Regions from separate parts of the Homo sapiens genome. Here region 1 is linked to region 2. The links come from fine-mapping of genetic effects on gene expression. A gene starts in region 2. The other region holds a variant in brackets. All regions are shown on one strand. Distances are from middle to middle.

Region 1 (2,922 bases), 45 kb before region 2:
ATAACATATGGTGAAAAATAAAGGATGGGGACAGTAACGCTAATTAATCTCATGGCATTTAAATATGCTTTTGGTTGACTTAAATGATTTGTGCTAAAATTTTTATCTTGATTAATCCAAAACACTTGATAAACAACCATATGTATATTTATAGTGTATTTTTTATAAATATAGTATTATTTATATAGTATATTATATATTATTTATACTATATTATATATAATATAATATATATAATATATAATAGTATATTATACTATTATAATATTATACTATATATTATATATTATATAGTATAATATAGTATAATACTATATTTTATAAATATAGTGTTATTTATATATATAAATACCTTTTTATTTCATTTCTAAAATTATAGTAAGTATACTTTGTCTTAGAGGAGAGAACCCAGAAATGCCAGGCATTATTTTCAGGCATTTATTACTAGGTATTATTTTCATTTTGACACATGGGCATTTAGTCTTCCCTGACAACTTACACAAAGGGAACAAAATAAATGATCTAGATAAAGAACAATTGTGGAACTGATCGCACACTGGTGACTTTTAATAATTCAAACTTCTCAAAGTAGATAACATCTATTATGTCAGAGTGGATTATGAATATTCTGATGACTTTTAAAATGTATTAAGGGTAATGTTAATTTTTAAACCACATTGTTTCTATACCTATAATTAAGATGCAAAAGCTGGTCTCATATCCCAGCTAAGAAAAAAATCTGCTGACATTTAAGTTGAAAATGATTAGGCACACTATGTACAATTTGTATTCAATAATTATTAAATTCCACAGCATTCAAATGACAAAATAGCAAAGCCTCACTCTATTTTAAAACGGTGATATAGGTGATATAAGAATCTTTCCAAGAATATACCACTTTGTTTCACCATGCTGCTTTCAAGCTCGACAATGGCAATCATCATAGGTTAGATAAAATCTTCAAAGAACTCTAGTCTGACACACTAAAGAGCAGCACAAGCAGGAAAATATGGCCTAAATACATGGAGAAAAATCCCATTACTTTTATACTTCAGAACATTCTAACATTTTTATACCATAATCATAAACTACCAACAAAACTACAAGTTACAAATATTTATTCTTGCTTTCTTTTTCAAGGAAGCCACTGAAATGATGAATAGATGAGGAATTGGAAATTATCTACCTTTCACAGTAATAAGAGGAGAAGAAAAACTTTCTACAAAATCCAGTACTTTGCTTCTTCCCCTGCTAAAGTGCTAACAAGAGATACAAAGACACCATCGTAGGTCAGTATGGGTGGCTCCTCTAGCCCTCCTACCCACAAAGGTATGCCATGCTCAAATTTAGGAGACAGAAATAAACTTTATGGCCTTTATTGTTTCACACATAAGTGTGGAAATATTTCTTAACATAAAGCCAAATTATATATATATAACAAAGCAAATACTAATTCCTCTGCCTTTGCTGAGTCATTCACTTAGCACCATACCAGGCCTATAGAATGGACTTA[A/C]GACAAAATTACTGATTCACAAGTAAGAAGATACACAAGAATATGACCTAGAAAAATGTGGAGCTTAATAAACAATAAACTTTAGAGATGATTGTAGTGATCTAATTTTCTTAATAGAATCTTCATTTATGTCTTTGAGAAGTGTATGGAGTCAGAAGTTCAGCAGCACATTTCATTGTTGTTATCATAACTTAAACTTAACATGCAAAGGGGAGTCAAATCAGCTATCTCAACTGCTGCCCTTGGCTTGCGTGGTCAAGTTGGCGAAGCAGAAATCATCAGTGGCTGGCTTATGTGATTATGTCCACCCCATTCCCCTCCTACCAATCCCCTTTCTGGGAGATTAAACTGATCTCATCTCTGACCCTAGTTCAATTTAACACAAAAGTATGTTAGACAACACCTAAGGTACACTTTAACAATTAAGCAAAAAATTGTTCATTTGGTTTTTTTTTTTTTTTTTGGTTGGTGGGGATTCGAGATAGGGTCTGGCTCTGTCACCCAGCCTGGAGTGCAGTGGCACAACCATAGCTTGCTGCAGCCTCAACCTCCCAGGTTTAAGCAGTCTTCCTGCCCCAGCCTCACTCTCTCGAGTAGCTGGGACTACAGGTTTGTGCCACCATGCCTAGCAAATTTTTTAATTTTTTTGTAGAGACTGGGTCTCACTATGTTGCTCAGCCTGTTCTTGAACTCCTGGACACAGGTGATCCTCCCTAAGCAAAAAAACTTTTTAAACTCTTTGCAGATAAATGATGCTACGTCTAATATTATTGCTGATCATATTGCTTTTTATCAATATTTTGCAATACTTGAATTTTTTACAATTAAAGCAATGAAATTTAAAGCCATTACTTTTGGTTCTAATATTTATATGTTATTTCCACATCATTATTTTTATGTGAACTTTATATCTTTAAAAACACCATAAATAAAATATTAAAGAAAGTTCTGATTAATAAGACCCTAAGGGCAAGGTTTTCGAGGGATTTCACATTGAAGATGTTGAAGAAAAAGACTCATCTCTAAAATGAGCTAGGAATAAATTCAAGTCGAAGATAAGATAAATCTAATGATTCTTCATAAAGACAAAATAAATCTTCAAGAATTGGTTTATTATATCACTTAGTGGAAGATATTCAGTAAAGGTGAAAAGCATTTCTAAGTGGGATAAGAATTAGTAAATTGGGCTTTTTAAACAATAGTTTGTTTTTCAACATCTCTACTTCCAAGTATAAAAGAAAACAAACAAACTGCAAACTAAAGCCTTAAACTAATTTTCCCTGGCACCAATAACTCCAGAAGTATTTGCAGTTTCTTCTTACAGATGCACATCAAAAGTAAAGACATAAAAACACAAATACTAACATACGTTGCATTAAACTGGTCTAATTAGGAATTAGATGACAGCT
Region 2 (2,922 bases):
AAAGTACCTAAAGCACCTACTCCCACATGAAACAAGATATTCCCCAAGGAAACATGTGCCCTTCAATGTGGCATGCACCTGGAAGTTTGACTTTGGTAGCATTCTATTGCAAGGTGCAGAGGAGAATGCCAAGGTCAATGCTCCAGGGCCAACAAGCTTTTTCCAGCCTCTCCAACAATCCAGCCTTTTCTCTTTTGGTTCACAGACATTGAAAACATGATTGTTGGACTCATCAGTGAACAGCTTAATCTTCTTGAAGATTCTTTACTTTTCCTATTCCAGAGAGATTTGTTTGGGGCTTTTAAGTGTTATAATGGAACAAGTTATCAATTTTATTCAAATGGGTCTACTAGGTATAAGTGTCCTCCTACTCAATTGTACTATCTATTGCACTAAATTAATCCTCTGATTGGTCTATTAGCCTCAGAAGGATTAGTATTTGAAAGGGTTAAATGCAGTTCTCAATCAATTATATTTTCATTATGTCACGACTATTGATTTGTCCCATTAGACACATTGTTCCTTTAAATTGAGAACTGAAGCAGTGTAAACATAATAGATTTGTATTTTCTTTTTAAAATGAGGTACTATGTAATAAAGATCTCAAAGTGCTAGTCCTTCACATCCGGAAATCAGGAAGAGAATTAAATGCCCTAAGGCATACATTGTATGTAATGGATTAACTTTCTCTGCATCTAAAATGGTAGTAGTTATACAGTTCTTGAGAGAATTAAGCAAATGTCACTCAAAACATTTTGTGCTCTATAAACCTTAAACCCGGTTTGCAAAAGTTTTTTGTAGTATGCTCTATATATTTCTATGAAGTTTCTGATGCCCTTTCATAAAAAATTCATTACAATAACAAAATAGGATTATCAAGTAATAACCAATATTGGTTTCCATAACAAGTATCATCTTGCAAAATGGTTCTTCACGATGTCTGATACATTTATTTTCTAACGCACTCCAGGGTATGAAATAGTGAAAGGTCTGTCTTCCACTTAACCACTTAGGAAACCAAGGAATATAAAGTTTTTGGTTTAAACCACTATCAAAGATCACGTGGGTGAAAAGACCTTCCAAATTGTAGGCTAACTGGGTCAGAGGGATATTAGCGGATGAATTTTTTCTATGATCTTACTATTCCTCACACAGGGGTAAAAGGTCAGGTCTAACCTCATGATCTCCTGGTTTCCGAGGCGCCCTGAGGCGATGGAGTGTCCCGGTTAATTTTGTGGTAGCCCTCGGGAAAGGCTACGTGCCTACAGGTCTCAGCTGTGCAGCAGCGGCACCGCTCCTGGACCCCTACTGCCTTCTGGGCTCCTAGGCTTGCGGAACAGATCAGGAGTCGCCGGCATTGGGGTACCAGGAGGACGCGAGCTGACTACCTGACTCCGGGCGGCGCAGGACGCCCGCCGCGCGAGGGGCGGGGGCTAAGCGTATCGAGGGGCGGTGCTCGAGGGCGCGGGAGGCGGGAGAGGCTGCCGCGCCGTGTGCCCTGGCAGCCGCAGCCCCGCCCCGCCGCGTCCGGCCCGGTCCTGTCCCGCAGCGTCCCGCCAGCCAGCTCCTTGCACCCTTCGCGGCCGAGGCGCTCCCTGGTGCTCCCCGCGCAGCCATGGCTCAGCACTTCTCCCTGGCCGCCTGCGACGTGGTCGGATTCGACCTGGACCACACTCTGTGTCGCTACAACCTGCCCGAGAGCGCCCCGGTGAGTGGCGCGGGCTCCGGGGCGCACTGCGCGCAACCTCCATGGCGGCTGGGGCTTGAGTTTCCTCCAGGTTTGGGCAACGGCGGACGCTGCCCGGGGCCTGCGGCGGCCGAGTCTTGCCGCAGAGCGCGGCCTCCAGCGGCGAGAAGGGGCGGAAGTGTGCAGCCTCCGCTCCGCGCCGGTGCCGTGGGGACCGGCACATTTACCTCAGCCATTAGCTAATGTTGAGAGGGATAGGGAAGAACGAAGGAGGGGCAAACTGCGCAAGACCGGGCTGGGGAATCGGTGATTTCTAGGGCCGAGGAGGGGCGGGGTCAGGGGGACTAGGGCTGTCCTTGAAGATCTCACGTCGTGGAACTTTCTCTGCATGTCTTTCTGGACACCAGCTGATTGTGGACACAGCCACTTGATTTGGTACTTGCATTTTTTTTGGCTGCATTTTTCTGTTTGCACGATCAACCACCCATCAGTGTTTAAACTGCAATCTGGGAGAGATGCGTAGTATATAGTGTAGTGTATTGAAAGGAACACTAGTTGAAAAGTCATTAAGATCTTAGCCCTAGTTTTACCTTCTATCAAGAGAAGAAAATACATATTTATTGCGCATCGACTACGTGCTCCGTGCACTTTGAATACATTCCAGTCCTACCAACAGTCTGCGAAGTTTGGGTCCTCACTGTGCCCTGAGGGAGGGGGACATGGAGTATGCATGCTTCCAGACCTGTACACTCAAATTAATTGCCCTCCCTCCACTATTCCTTTGGTTTCCCAATTCCCAAGGAAACTAATTTTGAAAAGTTACCAGATTTTTTTAGTCCAAGATCTAAGCATCCAGACAGAAAAAGAGCTGGTTATGAGTACAGTGGTGAAAGCGAGGACTCCTCAGCCAGACTGCCTAGCTTAGGACACCAGCTCCACTGTTACTAGCTCTGTGACTTCGAGGAAGTTACTTAACCTGTGCTGCTTCTCAGTTTCCCCATCTGTAAAATGGAGCTAATAATTGGATTTACCTCACAAGATTGTTGCAAGGATTAAATGAGTAAGAGATGTATAATGCTTAGAATAGTACCTTGGCAAAGACAAGTGTTTGCTTTTATGGTTACCACCCAAACTATTTGGAAACCTCACAGTTTATGGGTAGAACTCTAGATCACTGGTGCAGACATCAGCCAGGGTTGTGCCCCATTATGGGCACCCGCCAGTTCCTGCACCCA

The links.
Region 1: its variant is fine-mapped to the expression of NT5DC1 in whole blood (TOPMed, PIP 0.91).

Annotation. Positions count from the first base shown.
Region 1 is chr6:116,054,242-116,057,163 of GRCh38, forward strand. The region is part of intron 1 of FRK (fyn related Src family tyrosine kinase); the gene reads right to left. Among named protein-coding and RNA genes, the nearest start is that of FRK, 5.2 kb to the right of the region's middle. The variant A/C (reference allele first, on the strand shown) is at 1,514.
Region 2 is chr6:116,099,316-116,102,237 of GRCh38, forward strand. NT5DC1 (5'-nucleotidase domain containing 1) reads left to right here and starts at 1,538. Exons shown (of 12, transcript NM_152729.3): 1 at 1,538-1,708. The coding sequence starts at 1,616. It also overlaps a transcript of FRK not described here. RefSeq lists enhancers at 1,198-1,720, 1,721-2,241 and a silencer at 1,354-1,613.